Regions from separate parts of the Homo sapiens genome. Here regions 1 and 2 are each linked to region 3. Evidence: fine-mapped expression QTL. A gene starts in region 3. Each other region holds a variant in brackets. All regions are shown on one strand. Distances are from middle to middle. Region 1 overlaps MTMR3 (myotubularin related protein 3). Region 2 overlaps HORMAD2 (HORMA domain containing 2). Region 3 holds the start of MTMR3 (myotubularin related protein 3).

What was found. PIP is the estimated chance that this variant, and not a neighbour inherited with it, causes the effect.
Region 1: its variant is fine-mapped to the expression of MTMR3 in whole blood (INTERVAL, PIP 0.92).
Region 2: its variant is fine-mapped to the expression of MTMR3 in monocytes (TOPMed, PIP above 0.99).

The regions. Positions count from the first base shown.
Region 1 is chr22:29,967,208-29,972,477 of GRCh38, reverse strand. It overlaps MTMR3 (myotubularin related protein 3), which reads right to left. Exons shown (of 20, transcript NM_021090.4): 3 at 1,416-1,502. The coding sequence starts at 1,418. Among named protein-coding and RNA genes, the nearest start is that of MIR6818, 37 kb to the left of the region's middle. The variant G/A (reference allele first, on the strand shown) is at 3,283.
Region 2 is chr22:30,086,626-30,091,895 of GRCh38, reverse strand. All of the region lies in intron 1 of HORMAD2 (HORMA domain containing 2), which reads right to left. Among named protein-coding and RNA genes, the nearest start is that of HORMAD2, 8.8 kb to the right of the region's middle. The variant C/A (reference allele first, on the strand shown) is at 2,545.
Region 3 is chr22:29,880,188-29,885,457 of GRCh38, reverse strand. It overlaps MTMR3 (myotubularin related protein 3), which reads right to left and starts at 2,284. Exons shown (of 20, transcript NM_021090.4): 1 at 2,099-2,284. RefSeq lists silencers at 1,742-2,241, 2,302-2,471 and an enhancer at 2,184-2,478.

The DNA.
Region 1 (5,270 bases), 87 kb before region 3:
GATACATACATGGCCATGCTACTCCCCAACTAGTACACACAGAATCAACTCCCAAGCGTTGTCTAAAGCATCAGGCCAGGGAAAACACCAGGAAGACTTTCTGCTAGGCACCATGGAGAACCCAGCAGCACCAGGAAGAGGACCACACTGTTACTAGCCGTGTGGTATACAATGAAGGACAAACCCTCAATACAGAACAGAGCTGCTTTCATAAGCCCATCATTTGTTATTCATTAGCACTGGCTGAAATACTAGACAAGCACTTTTTCAATTCATTGAAAACTCTGTGGGAAAACCAATAAAATAAAATATAATCAAGAAAATAACAGGAAAAGTTCATCAATGTTTAGGTATAAGATAAATCATAAAGTTGTAATGCCCACAAACTAAGAAAAAATTGGCATGCCTTTAAGATAAGGGCAGTTACCTTTCTCTTCCTTTTAATATGACATTTCTGCACAACTAGTTTTTTTGTTTTACTTTTTCTAATTTTGAAAAGCATTTTCCATACGTCCCTAATGAAGCTTGAAATTAATGTAGCCTTTTCAATTCCTTCTCTGTGCATCAGCATAAAACAGTTTGGATCTAGGAAACATCACAAGGTAGAAGAAGGACAATATTACAGAGGACCATTTCTTTTTTAAGCCTTGAAGCACTGTTTACATTTCCTCAGGATTGATGAAAATGTGGCTGGCTTGTTGCTCCATCTTCTCTGCTTGAGCTGGGCCCGAAATGGCCCGTAAGTCATTAAATTGTCCATTAAATTCTCTTTCTGGTTAAAGATACAGGAGGGGGTGTGCAGGGCTGCTCCACCTACTATGGGATCAAAATACTGCCTTAAAGAGACAAAACAGGGAAGGTAGGGAATTGCTTCTATAAATTCATAAAGCATATATACTATGTGAAGTAATACATATGTTAATCAGCTTGATTTAGCCATTCCACAAGGTATATATGTATTTCAAAACATTATGCTGTACACAATATATATGTAATTTGTCAATTTAAAAAAATTTTTAAGTAAATATGCAGATTACCATCTTACAATTTGTCTACACACAAACACACACACACAGTTTTCACTACACGCTACTTCCTAGAAAAGGAATTAAAAACCTGGAGTCCGAGAACTGTATGTTTTAGTCTTGATTCCATTTACTTGCTGACTGAAAAATAAGAGACAACATCTAGCTCACAGGATTAAAGTTAACAGAAATGAAACTGCTCTGTATATTGGAGTACTCTATTACTACTAAGTAAACAAGAAAAGAAAAGACACAAGAGATCTGGGAAAGAAAAAGAAATAATTTCTTACAAAAACAAAAATGGGTAAGTATGAATTTATTAGTGTTCACTTAATTGTCAGGACACAGGGTTTTTTGTTTTTTTTTTTACTCTTATTTCCTTGTACTTACCATGACAAGAGGCCCAGATTAGGAGGAGAAATCCCCGTCCCTTCTTCAGTGTCCAACAAGGCTCTCTTCTTTCCCTTATGGTGAAGTCTGGGGGTGGGGGGGAAGAGGGGGAAGAAGAAAAAAAAAAGAGGAGGGGAGGCAAAATTGGCAATAGTTTTTCCCCTAATCGGCCATATCCTCACAAAGGTATTGTATATACACAGGCCTAAGAAGCTGATCAGAGTCAGCCAAGAAAAAGTTGATTATCACCCAGCCAATTCCCACTAGTCAAATCCCAATTTGACAGTTCCTTTGTAAAACTCCTGTTAGTCTTAACCTGTTTCTGCAAAAACAGTATCAAAGGCTAACATTCCTAATGTTCGTAGTAAAACAAAAAATATCATAAAACTTGGATGAATAAAGCAACAATTAAAATCAACCTACAGGCCAGGCAAGGTGGCTTAATGCCTATAATCCCAGCACTTTCGAAGGCTGAGGCAGATAGCCTGAGCTCAGAAGTTTGAGACCAGCCTGGGCAACAGAGTGAAACTCTGTCTCAAAAAAAAAAAAAAAAAAAAAAAAAAAAGCTGGTCATGGCAGCACATGCCTGTAGTCCCAGTTACTCAGGAGGATGAGGTGGGAGGATCAACTGAGCCTGGAAGGTTGGGGCTGTAGTATGCTGTGATTACACCACTGCACTCTAGTCTGGGCAACAGAGCAAGACTCTGTCTCAAAAAAATAAATAACATCAACCTGCAAATGCAAAATCATTATTCTTGTAGTATTTTAGGATGTTTTTGTGGTTATCTCTAAATTCAAAATGGATCCCCCATCTGAGGAAACCAAACTGACTTACGAGCAAAATAGGAAAAATAAATTTGCCTTATTACCCAAATATTCTATGCTCTTCTAAAAACTTACAATCTGTACTAATACCTTTACCTGGTTTTATAAGAACAAAAAAGGGGGAAAGAATATCCAACTAGAAACCCAAAAATAGGCTTATACAAAGAGTAAGTAAGTTGCTCTTTTCTTTGAACAGTCTCATGCAAAACCAACATTTCTAGTTTGCTAAGCTTCTGTAACACAGGATATTTCAGGGAGTCTGGGCTTCAATGTGCAGCATAAAACTCTTTTAAGGGCAATGTAAGCAAGGGAACAAGAGAACATAAAAGCAGTAGCAAGGCCCAGATTGTGTTGAGGCATTTTGAGCAGAGGAATGGTAGGAGATGACTTACTCTAAAGAATCATTTTGGCCGGGTGTGGTGGCTCACGCCTGTAATCCCAGCATTCTGGGAGGCCAAGGCAGGCAGATCACGAGGTCAGGAGTTCGAGACCAGCCTGGCCAACATAGTGAAACCCCATCTCTACTAAAAATACAAAAAATTAGCAGGGCATGGGGGTGTGTGCCTGTAGTCCCAGCTACTCGGGAGGCTAAGACAGGAGAATAACGTGAACCTGGGAGGCAGAGGTTGCAGTGAGCCGAGATCACGCCATTGCACATCCAGCCCAGGTGACAGTGTGAGACTCAGTCTCAAAAAAAAACCAAAAAAACAAAAAAAAGAATCATTTTGGCTGTTGGGTAGAGAACAGTCAAGGCTACTGGGGGTAAGGGGCAAAAGAAGACCAATTAGAAAGCGTCATTAACCCCAGCAAGAGACAATATAGCAATGAAAAGGTAGTAGAGATAGAAGTGGTGGGATGTTACTGATTCTGGATATACTTTGAAAATACTGCCCATAGGATTTGAGTGGATTAATTAAATAGGATAGAAAAAGAGAAGTCAAGCTTTTTGTGTCAGCAACCGGAAGCAAGGATTTTCTATTTATTGATGAAGAGCATTGTAAGAAAAATCTATTCTTCTCGTGCCATGCAGAGACAGCTCAAC[G/A]GACAAGGAACAAGAAATTAAAGTTTCCATTTTAGACACATTATGTTTGAAAACCTATCACATATCCAAACAAAGATGCCAAGTAAAGTGCTAGTTAAACCAGACTAGAGATCAAGAAGATGGAGCCTAGAGATATAAACATAAATGTGGGAGACATCAGTGTGTGAATGGCATTAAAGCCAAATGCAGGAGCAAGTATAAATGGAGAGGCTAAGATGACTAAGGACAGGGGTTTTGGGTGCACCATTTTTTAGAGGCTGGAAGGATGAGGAAGAACCTTATGGTTCAGTAACAGACCAAGTTGGAGTCATCATTCTTAACCACTCTTCAAACCAAGCCAAACTTTTGTGATTTGGCCTAGCTCAAGAACTGAAACTAATGTAAAATTATCTCATTTATTCATTCTTTTCAATAAATATTTATTCAATATTTTCTACACTCCATGCACTGTTGTAGACTTTGGGGACACCACTGTGAACAGAAATTCATGGAACTTGATTTTATTGTTGGTCTTTCTCATTAGAAACAAAGAAACAGATAACTAATGTTAAGCAGTAGGCAACTGCTGCAAAGAAAATTAAGCAGAGTTTGGTGATGGTGTAACAGAAATGCTACTTTAGATAGGAAGGTAAAGATGTGCAAAAAGGCACTTATTGGAATTAAAAAGGAGAAGGGCAAAGGCAGAGAAAATTTGAGGGTATGAACTTATTAAAAGAACGGGATACTGTTATAAAGAACCTTTTCAAAAAAGAAACATACTGAATTACTTTTAAAAAACTGTCCTAATATTACACAAAAGATATTTGTGTTTTAGAATAAAATTTCTAAAGATAGCATCATTGACACATTCAAACTGCTGTATCTTAAACAATTTAAATGGAAGTGAATTTAATGCATTTTGCAAAACTATTAAATAACAAAATATAACTCCAGTGAGGAAGATACTAATGTCAGATGTAGATGGAATGTGAAGGTGAAACCCCCATACACTGCCGGCAGGAATGTAAAGTGGTACAACCTCTGAGGAAAAGTGTGGCAGTTCCCAAAAAAGTTTAGAGTCATCATATGTCCCATCAGTTCCACTCCTGGGTATATACCTAAGAGAACTGACAAGGTATGTCCACATAAAAACTTCTACACAAATTTTCGTAACAGCATTATTCATGATGGCCAAAAGTGCAAACAACCCAAATATGCATCAATCAATGAATGGACAAACAAAATGTGAATGGATAAACAAACAAAAAATACACACACACACACACACACACACACACAGTATATATAATGGAGTTATCCAGCAATAAAATGGAATAAAATACTGATACATGACACACATAGATGAAAACATTATGCTAAATGAGAGAACCTGGGGCACAAAAGGCCATATATTGTGTGATTCCATTTGTATGAGATGTCCAGAAAAGGTAAATCCACAGAGACAGAAAGTAGATTAGTGGTTGCCAGGAGCCAGGTTGAGGGAAGAATAGGGAGTGACTGCTAATGGGTACAAGGTACCTTTGCAGGGTGATGAAATGTTTGGAATTAGGTAATGGTAATGGTTCTACAGCTTTATGACTATACTAAAAACCACTGAATTGTATACTTTAAAAGGGTGGATTTTATGTGATATGACTTATAGCTCAAAAAAAAAAAAATACAGAAGCCATGTGCAGTGGCTCACTCTTATAATCCTAGCAATTTGGGAGGCCAGGACAGGAAGACAGCTTGAGCCCCAGAGTTCAACGCCAGCCTGGGCAACATAGCAAGACTGTCTCTACTGAAAAAAAAAAAAAATTAGGTGGTTGTGCACACCTGTAGTCCTAGCCACTTGGGAGGCTGATGTGGAAGGATCCCTTGAGCTCAGGAGTTCAAGGCTGCAGTGAGCTTATGCTACTGCACTCCAGCCTGAGTGACAGAGCAAGACCTTGTCTCTAAAAAACATGCGCGCGCGCGCGCATGCACACACACACACACACACACACACA
Region 2 (5,270 bases), 210 kb before region 3:
CAAAAAATGAAATGAAATAAAATAAAATAAAATAACAAAAAATAACGAATGCTGGCAAGGATGCAAAGAAAAGAAAATTCTTATACACTGTTGGTAAGAATGTAAATTAGTACAAGCATTATGGAAAACAGTATGGAAGGTCCTCAAAAATCTTAAAATAGAAACCATATAATCCAGCAATCCTACTATTGGGTATTTATCCAAAAGAAAAGAAATCAGTATATGGAAGAGATATCTATACCTCCATGTTTATTGCAGCACTATTCACAATAGCCAAGATATGGAATCAACCTAAGTGTCCATCAACAGATGAATGCATGAATAAAATATAGGCCGGGGTGGCAGCTCATGTCTGTAATCCCAGCACTTTGGGAGGTTGAGGCAGGCAGGTTGCTTGAGCCCAGGAGTTCAAGACCAGCCTAGGCAACATGGTGAAACCCTATCTGTACAAAAAATACGAAAATTAGCTGGGTGTGGTGGCACGCACCTATAGTCCCAGCTACTTGGGAAGCTAAGGTGGACTACTTGAGCCCAGGAGTTCAAGGCTGCAGTGCAGTGAGCCATGATTGCACCACTGCACTCCAGCCTGGGCAACAGAGCAAGACTCTGTCAAAAAAAAAAAAAAAAAAGAAAGAAAGAGAGAAAGAAAGAGAGAGAGAGAGAAAGAGAAAAAGAAAGAAAGGAAGGAAAGGATATATATACACAATGGAATATTATTCAGCCATTTAAAAAAGCATGAAATCTGTCATTCACAGCAACAGAGATTAACCTAGATGATATAATTTTAAGTGAAGTAAGTCAAGTACAGAAAGATAAATACCATGTGTTCTCACTCATCTGGGAGCTAAAACAGATGAGCTCTCAGAAGTAGTTATTAAAAGCTAGGAAGGGCAGCAGGGAGGAGGTTGGATAGGGAGAAGTTAGTTAATGGATATAAAATTACAGCTAGATAGGAGAATAAATTATATTGTTCTATAGCACTGTAGAGTGACCACAGTTAACAATGATTTATTGTATATTTTAAAATAGTTCAACACAAAGAATGATAAATGTTTGAATTGATGAATATGCTTTGACTTGACCATTACATATTGTATACATGTATCAAAATATCACTCTGTACCCCATAAATATGTACAATTACTGTGTGTCAATTAAAAATTTTATAAATGATTATTCAAAAATGGAAAATAGTAAGTTGGTAAGGATGTGGAGAAATTAAAACCCTTATGCATTGCTGGTGGGAATGAAAATGGTGCAGCCATTGTGGAAAATAGCAATGGCATTCCTCAAAAAGTTAAACAGAATTACCATATTATCTAGCATTTCCATCTCTAGGTATATATTCAAAAGAATTGAAACCAGGGACTCAAACAGATACTTGTACACCAATGCTCATAGCCACATAATTCATATTAGCCAAAAGATGGAAACAGTTCGAATGTCTATTAAAAGATGAATGGATAAACAAAATGTGGTATTTACAATGGAATATTACTCAATTGTTTTATTTGTTTGTTTTGTTTTGTTTTTGAGACGGGGTCTCCTTCTGTCACCCACAGTAGAGTGCAATGGCGTGATCTCGGCTCACTGCAACCTCCCGCTCCCAGGCTTAAATGATTCTCCCACCTCAGCCTCTCGAGTAGCTGGGACTACAAGCATTTGCCACCACACCTCGCTAATTTTTGTATTTTTTGTGGAGATGGGGTTTTGTCATGTTGCCCAGGCTGGTCTTGAATTCCTAGGTTCAGGCAATCCACCCGCCTCATCCTCCCAGTGTGCTGGGATTATAGGCATGAGCCACCACACCCGACCCCTATTCAATCTTAAAAAGGAATGAAGTTCTGATACATGCAACAATGTGAATAAATCTTGAAAACATTATGCTAAGTGAAAAGCCAGACATAAAAGGACAAATATTATATGATCCCACTTATATGAGGTACCTACAGTAGGCAAATTCACAGAGACAGAAAGTAGAATAGAGGTTACCAGGTGCTGGTGGGGTAGAAGGAATAAAGAGTTTAATAGGTATAGAGTTTCTGTTCACGATGATGAGAAGGTTTTAGAAATGGATAGTGATAATGGTTGCACAACATTGCAAATGTGCTTAGTGTCACTGAGTTGTACACTTAGAAAAGCTGAGGTGTTGAGTTTCATATTACAGTTTACCACAATAAAAAAGTTAATATTTAAAATACATCTAGTTTTCACCCTTATTGTTTTGTTGATATAAAAAAGAAGCAGCCGGGCATGGTGGCTCATGCCTGTAATCCCAGGACTTTGGGAGGCCAAGGCGGGTGGATCACGAGGTCAGGAGATCAAGACCATCCTGGCCAACATGGTGAAATCCCATCTCTACTAAAAATACAAAAATTAGACAGGCATAGTGGCAGGCGCCTATAGTCCCAGCTACTCAGGAGGCTGAGGCAGGAGAACGGCGTGAACCCGGGAGGTGGAGCTTGCAGTGAGCCAAGATTGCGCCACTGCACTCCAGCCTGGCCGACAGAGCCAGACTCCATCTCAAAAAAAAAAAAAAAGAAG[C/A]AGCAGCAAATTTTCCCTTTTCTTTACAAAGTCTTAATTTAATTTCAACTGGGGCTTCTTTTCAAGGTTTTATGAAGTTCTGACCAAAATACTTGTAAAATAACTTCTTTAAAGATATTCCATTCTGGATCACCAAGGATAGCCTGTGACCGGTTTTTGTGTATCCATTAATGCAAGATTCTTGAAGATTTTTCCCAAGAGGGCAGAATTATTTGCGAACACTGCCACAAGGTGGTGATAGAGATTATAAATAGGTGGTAATATTAAATTTCTTTCAAATTATTTCTTCAGAGGGGCACTAGGGGACACTCTTTTACAATATTTTATATATGAGACTGAAAACCACCAATAGTTCTTTAACCCTTAAAGATTCCAAGCTATCTTTACTTGATTTGAGACTATAACCTTCATATCTAATACATCAGTTGTCCCCCTTAAATTTCAAAAAATAAAATGGGAAACAAAGTAGCTCTAAGAGTTTAAGATCTAGTCCCAGCCCATTAAACCATAATACACTACCCACTACTGGGGTAGTTATTAGTCTTAGACACAATAAATAAGAGAAATCATGATTTTCTAGAATAGTTTTCTATATTAGTATAGAATACTAATATTAATAAAACTAATAAAACTTAATAAAACTTACTTTTTAATTTTTAAATTAATTTTTAAATTAACTTTTTTAATTAATAAAATTAATAAAACTAATAAAACTTACTTATTAAAACTTACTTAATAAAACTAAATAGTTTTCTAAATTAGTAGGGTTTTAAAAATTTCTCTATGATCATAGACATTCTGATGTCATTTCTAGGGAATCAAGCTCTGAAAATAGCATCAGCCAATTAGAACACAAGGCATTACTACATCCATATTTTTGCAATGTATGGATGGCCTAGATTAAATTAATATTACCATTGAAAACTCTGAGGCATTCAGGACACTTGCTATTGAGAAAGGATTCAAGCAGGTTAATATTAGCATTTGGTAAATTCCTTAGGAATTGACATTTATAAAAGTAAAATTAAATTTTATACATATATGTATATATGTGTATATATATGTATGTATATATGTGTGTATATATGTATATATGTGTGTATATGTATATATGTGTGTATATATGTATATATGTGTATATATGTATATATGTATACATAGGTATATATGTATATATGTATACATAGGTATACGTGTATACATATGTGTATATGTACACATGTGTACGTGTGTGTATATGTACACGTGTGTACGTGTGTGTATATGTACACGTGTGTACGTGTGTGTATATGTATACGTGTGTACGTGTGTATACACATATACAGATCTGTATATGTATATATGTATGTGTGTGTATATATATATGTATATATATAGAGAGAGAGAGAGAAATAACCAGCAGTATAATCTAGTAGAAAGAGCCTTTAGAGTTAAGGAACCTAAGTTCAAATTCTGACTCAGTTACCTAGCAGCTGGCATGGCCAGGCACAGTAGGAGATAACTGGATCATCTGGGCAGTTTCTCATGAATGGTTTAGCACTATACCCTCAGTGCAGTTCTTGCAATAGTAAGTGAGTGAGTTATTGCAAGATCTGGTTGTTTAAAGGTGTGTAGAACCTTTTTTTTTTTCCTCTCTCTCTCTCTCCTGCTTTGGCCATGTAAGATGTGCCTGCTTCTCCTTTGTCTTCTGCCATAATTGTAAGTTTCCTGAGGCCTCCTCAAAAGTCAGGCAGATGCTACCATGCTTTCTGTACAGCCTGTGGAACTGTGAGCCAATTAAACCTCTTTTCTTTATAAATTACCCAGTCTCAGAAATTTCTTTATAGCAATGCAAGAACAGACTAAAACAGAGCTCTTCTTTTTTACTTCTACCACACACTCCCTGGATGAACAAATACACTCCCATTGTTTCAAGTATAACTTCTATCTTATTGATTCTTATGTGTATATCCCCAACCCAGGTCTCTCTCAGAAGTTGCTGACTTGTTCTTCTAACTGATCATAAGACTGTTCCACCTTGATGTTCTCAACACATTTGAATGTGAATTATTTTCCCCAAAAACTTACTTCTGTTCCCTCGCTCAGTGAATGACATCATCACATACCTAGTTGCTCAAGCACAAAATCTGTGACTCAACCTTAATCCCTTCCTCGTTCCCATGTTCCATCACCTTAATATTTCTCAAATGTAGGCCAGGCGCAGTGGCTCACGCCTGTAATCCCAGGACTTTGGGAGGCTGAGGTGGGCGGATCACCTGAGGTCAGGAGTTCAAGACCAGCCTGACCAACATGGAGAAACCCCATCTCTACTGAAAATACAAAATTAGCTGGGCGTGGTGGCACATGCTTGACCAACATGGAGAAACCCCATCTCTACTAAAAATACAAAATTAGCTGGGCGTAGTGGCACATGCCTGTAATCCCAGCTACTTGGGAGGCTGAGGCAGGAGAATCGCTTGAACCCAGTAGATGGAGGTTGCAGTGAGCCAAGATCACGCCATTGCATTCCAGCCTGGGCAACAAGAGTGAAACCCTGTCCCCCTGCACATACATATATATATATATATCTCAAATGTGTCCAACTCCTCACTTTAGCCAGGTTGTTGTCATCTCTACTTTAAATCAACCAGTCTCATCTTTTGCCTGTACTGCTGCAACCACCAATTTCCTGTCACTGGTATTCTCCTTCTCCAGTCTGTTCTGTATATTGCAGCCAGAGTTTTTAA
Region 3 (5,270 bases):
TTGCAAATTAACTTTTGGCAACAAATCTGTTTCCCCTACATAAATCCATTATATTTTAAGAGATGCTCAATTTGCATCTCTTTAAGTTTCTCATGCTTCCCCTTCTCCACCTCTTAAATTCTTAAAGATCTATAAACAAAAGCACCCTGAGAAGTCATAATTAATGGGACTTCTTTGGAATACCCAACCTAAAGCAAAAGTTCACATGCCTTGCTGACCAGAATCATTCACGGAGCTTTGTAAGGACAGATCCCCAGGCTCTATCCTCAGAGATTTTAATTCACCAGGTCCTGCATGAGTTCGAGGAATTTAGGTAGTCCATAATATTTCTAATGACCAGCCTTAAACTAGACAACCACTGAAGAACCTGGCCTATGAGCTGAGAAACTCAGGGTTTTTTATGGCTGGTCATTAACGACAAGCGGGGCTGTACCACTGTGCTGGTCACTTGAAGTTCTCTGAGTCACCTGAAAATGAGGGAGTAATTGGAGCCAAAAGAGGTATTCATAGGCAGCCAATCTAAAATTCTAGAATCCTCCAAATTTAATTTAATATCACATACTATACTGGGTTTACTCAAAACAGTGTCATTCTGGCTGGCGGCAGTGGCTCACGCCTATAATCCCAACACTTTCGAAGGCCAACGCAAGCGGATCACTTGAGGTCAAGAGTTCCAGGCCAGCCTGGCCAACATGGTGAAATCCCCGTCTCTACTAAAAATACAAAAATTAGCCAGCCGTGGTGGCGCACACTTGTAATCCCAGCTACTTGGGAGGCTGAGGTGGGAGGATTGCTAGAACCTGGCAGGCGGAGGTTGCAGTGAGCAGAGATCGCACTACTGCACTCCGGCCTGGGCGGGAGAGAGAGATTCTGTCTTAAAAAAAAAAAAAAAAAAAAAAAAAAAAAGTGTCATTCTGTAAGCTCTTCTAGCCTACCCAAGTCATAGGCCCTATAAAGGGAAGACTTTCTGCATGCCATCAATGTCTCCTGTCCTACTGAACAGCCCTGAATCTGAAAGGGGAAGGTCCCCACCACCTCTCCATGGACAAATCACAAACATTTCACATTGAAAAAAATAATAATAATCTCCTGTAATTCAACCCAGGCCTCTTATGGCATTACCATTCACATATGAGAAAGTTGAACCTTAACTAGAAAAGTATATGGTTTTGGGGTTTTGTTTTGTTTTGTTTTGTTTGTTTGGGTTGTGGAAAAATAGATGTCAGAATCAAGATACTACAACAGTAAGAATTTAGGCCTGGGTCTGGAAAGGACATTTGAACATCAATATGTAATAGCAGTCCATGTCCAAAACTCACAAGTGAGATTATCAAATTCCAGGGGAGTCTATTAATGTGGCCAAAAAATCTACCCCATAATTTTGACATAAGTTTTCCAGTCCAAAATACAACCTACAGTATCATCTTATGGGTCCGGAAATGCCATACATCAAGCAAAATTACTACCGGAGAAATAACACTGTAATCATTTGCGGAGCAGTCTGACCAGGGTTCCCTCAGTTACGCCAACCGCCCCCAATCATCCTACCCACCTAAGTACTACCAGGTCAGGGGGATGCCCTGCTGCACGATCGGGCGGTCACTCCTCCTTTCCACAAGGCCCAGGCCCGCACCGTTCGCCCCGGGGCTCCCATGGCCCCTGACCTCCAGTATCCGGCAACGATGGACCGCCACAGACCCGGCAGGGGGCGAAGGGCGCACACCCACCTCCCGGGAGTTCGTGGGAATAACTCCGGGCGCTCCGAGGGTACGTCCCACACCCAGAGCCGCACGGGCCCATCCCCGCCAGGTCTGGGAAGGCAGCCCGAGCCCGGGACCCCGCCTCCCCCGCATCTAGGGTCCGGGCCGAGCTCGGCCGCCGAGCTCCCATTCCCACTCCCACACCCAGCGCCTCCCCCTGGCGGCGACAGCCGCCGGGGACGCCCCTCCCCGGGCCCCGCACGCAGTCCCCAGCCCTCCCAGGGCGCTGCCTCCTCAGAGGGTGACAGCCGCCTGGCCAGGGCCGGGGCCGAGGCCGGCCCCTCCTCCAGCTCTTCCTCACCCGCCGAGGAGACGGAGGACGGGGATGGGGTTCTTACCGGGCAGCAGGACATGGCGAGGCCCTCCACGGCACAGTCTCCCCCTCCGCCACCCCACCAGGCTCCCTGCCAGGGCCGGCGCTGGGCAGCGCCTGAGCCGCTGGGACGTCTCGTCCGGCTGCTACTCCGCCGCCGCCGCCGCCTTCTCACAACCACAACAACATGGCGGCAGCGGCCACACAGAGCGCGCTCCCGACGCCGAGCCGGGCGACGAGCGAGGACGCGCGCGCACGCTCGGGCGCTGAGCCCGGTGTCCGGGAAAGGGGGCGGGTCTCCGCCGGTTGGACGGGGGCGGGGCCTGGACAGGTGGTCACGCCCCAGGAGATGGGCGGGGCTGCAGCTGGGGAGAGGCTCGCGAAAAAGCCCAGCGGAGCAAGAATGGCTAGACAGATGGGAAATGGGTGGAGGAAAAGAGATGACAAAAAAAAATCTGGAAGAAAACCAAAGGTGGTCCTACAGATTTTTAGGAGGCGTCTTTTCCAAGCTCTGTAACCCTGGGCAAGACATGGCTCACTCTACTTACCAGAAAAATAGAACAATAGTGGTATCTTCCACCTGCAATTGTGGTCAGGATAAAACCAGTTTAATATAATGCAAGTAAATATAGTGTTTTAGAAGTTGTATTCAGAATACAATTTCTTTTCTTTTCTTTTCTTTTTTTTTTTTTTTTTTTTTTTTTTGAGACAGAGTCTGGCTCTGTCGCCCAGGCTGGAGTGCAGTGGCATCTCGGCTCACTGCAACCTCTGCCTCCCGGGCTCAAGCGATCCTCACACCTCAGCCTCCTGAGTAGCTGAGACTACAGACTCACAACATCATGCCCGGCTAAATTTTGTATTTTTTGTAGAGATGAGGTTTCTGCCATTTTGTCCAGGCTGATCTCAAACTCCTGGGCTGAAGCAATCCACCCACCTCGGCCTCCCAAAGCGCTGGGATTACAGGCATGAACCACCGCATCCGGTCCAGAATACAATTTCAAACTGATTCAACTTCAGCTCCTAATCAAAAGCTCAGCGGGAAGAAGTGAGTTTTCAAACAAAGTAAAAAACAACTCCCCCAAAAAATTGTAACCTACCCACACTAGCCTGCAGAATTCCACAAACCAGGATTGCATTACCGTAGGCCCTAACAGATTCACCTCCTCTGAGTTGCCTTTTAACATTCTACCCTTGACTTTTCTGGAAACTGGGAGAACTAGTCAAATGAAATCTATTCCTGCGTCTGTTGTAAAGTTTTTCCACAGCACTTTCTGAAATTTATTTTCAATGTTTACTGTCATTTTACTCCACTAAAATGTAAAAGCTACTTGAAGATAAGGATCTTGTCTTGTTCGTCACTGTTTCCCCAGCACCTAGAACTGTGCAGGTTAAGTAGTAGGCAGTCGAATTTCTTGATTAACTAACAGCTGGCTGGGCGCGGGGGCTCACGCCTGTAATCCCAGCACTTTGGGAGGCCAAGGTGAGTGGATCACCTGAACTCAGGTGTTCGATACCAGCCTGGCCAACTTGGTGAAACCCCGGATCTACTAAAAATACAAAAGTTAGCTGGGCATGGTGGCGGGCGCCTGTAATCCCAGCTACTTGGGAGGCTGAGGCAGGAGAATAACTTGAACCCGGGAGGCGGAGGTTGCAGTGAGCTGAGACTGCGCCACCGCACTCCAGCCTGGGCGACAGAGCAAGACTCCGTCTCAAAAAAACGAAACTAAACTAACAGCTAACATTTATTCATACAACTCATCTAATTGAATCTTCACAACTTTAATAGGTAGATGCCATTATCTCCATATTACAGATGAAGAAAGTGAAGCACAGAATAAATTGCGTGTATTAAAACAAAATTCAAACCCAGCAGACAAAAAAAAAAAAAAAATACTGTGCTGTCTTACCCACCAGGCTGTACTGCCCAGTGCATGGACACAGTAGCCTGAAATAAAATCTCAAGTAAGAAATTACTTTAGGCCGGGCGCAGTGGCTCATGCCTGAAATCCCAGCACTTTAGGAGGCCGAGGCAGGTGGATTGCTTGAGCTCAGGAGTTCGAGACCAGCCTAGGCAACATGGCGAAATCCCATCTCTACAAAAAATACCAAAAAACTGGCCAGGCGTGGTGGTGCACGCCTGTAGTCCCAGCTATTTGAGAGGCTGAGGTGGGAGAATGGCTTGAGCCTGGGAGGCAGAGGTTGCAGTGAGCCCTGATTGTGCCACTGCACTCCAATCTGGGTGTCAGAGAGAGAAAAAAGAAAGAACGAAATAAATTACTTTAGAGTTAAAAGCTTGGAAAGCCCTTGCTTTACTACCAGAAAAACCGGTGTGCTTCCTGCTTTTTGATAACTGTTACGCATCTGATTGTGTCTCTCTTTTCACTCTGGCTTCCAGAAAGCCCAGGGCTAAATGTGAAGCTCAGCAATGACCTCTTCTTGGCCCTTGAGGGTCCACTCCTGCCTCAACTTTGCACCTGTATTTATATGTGGCTGCCCTGATTTTCCCTTTCTGTTCTATGACTGACTATAGGCTTAATGGAATGGGAGAAGAAACAGTAAATACTAAAATTGATGAATGATTTAAAGTTTTTTTATTTTATTTTATTTTATTTTATTTTTGAGACAGAGTTTCACTCTTGTTGCCCAGGCTGGAGGGTAATGGCGGGAACTTGGCTCACTGCAACCTCTGCCTCCCGGGTTCAACCGACTCTCCTGCCTCAGCCTCCCGAGTAGCTGGGATTACAGGCATACGCCACCACACCCGGCTAATTTTTTGTATTTTTAGTAGGGACGGGGTTTCTCCATGTTGGTCAGGCTGGTCTCGAACTCCCGACCTCAGGTGATCCACCAGTCTCGGCCTCCCAAAGTGCTGGGATTACAGGCATGAGCCACCGTGCCCGGCCTCTTTTTATTTTTATATTTTATTTTATTTTCAGACAAGGTCTCACTCTGTTGTCCAGGCTGGAGTGCAGTGGCTGGATCTCTGCTCACTGCAACCTCTACCTCCCAGGGCTCGAGCCATCCTCCCACCTCAGCCTCTTGAGAAGCTGGGACTACAGGCGTGCTCCACCACACCTGGCTAACTTTTGTATTTCTCATAGAGACGGGGGGTGGGGGTGGTGTCTCACCGTGTTCCCCAGGCTGGTCTCAAACCCCTGAGTTCAAACGATCCATCTGCCTCCGCCTCCCAAAGTGCT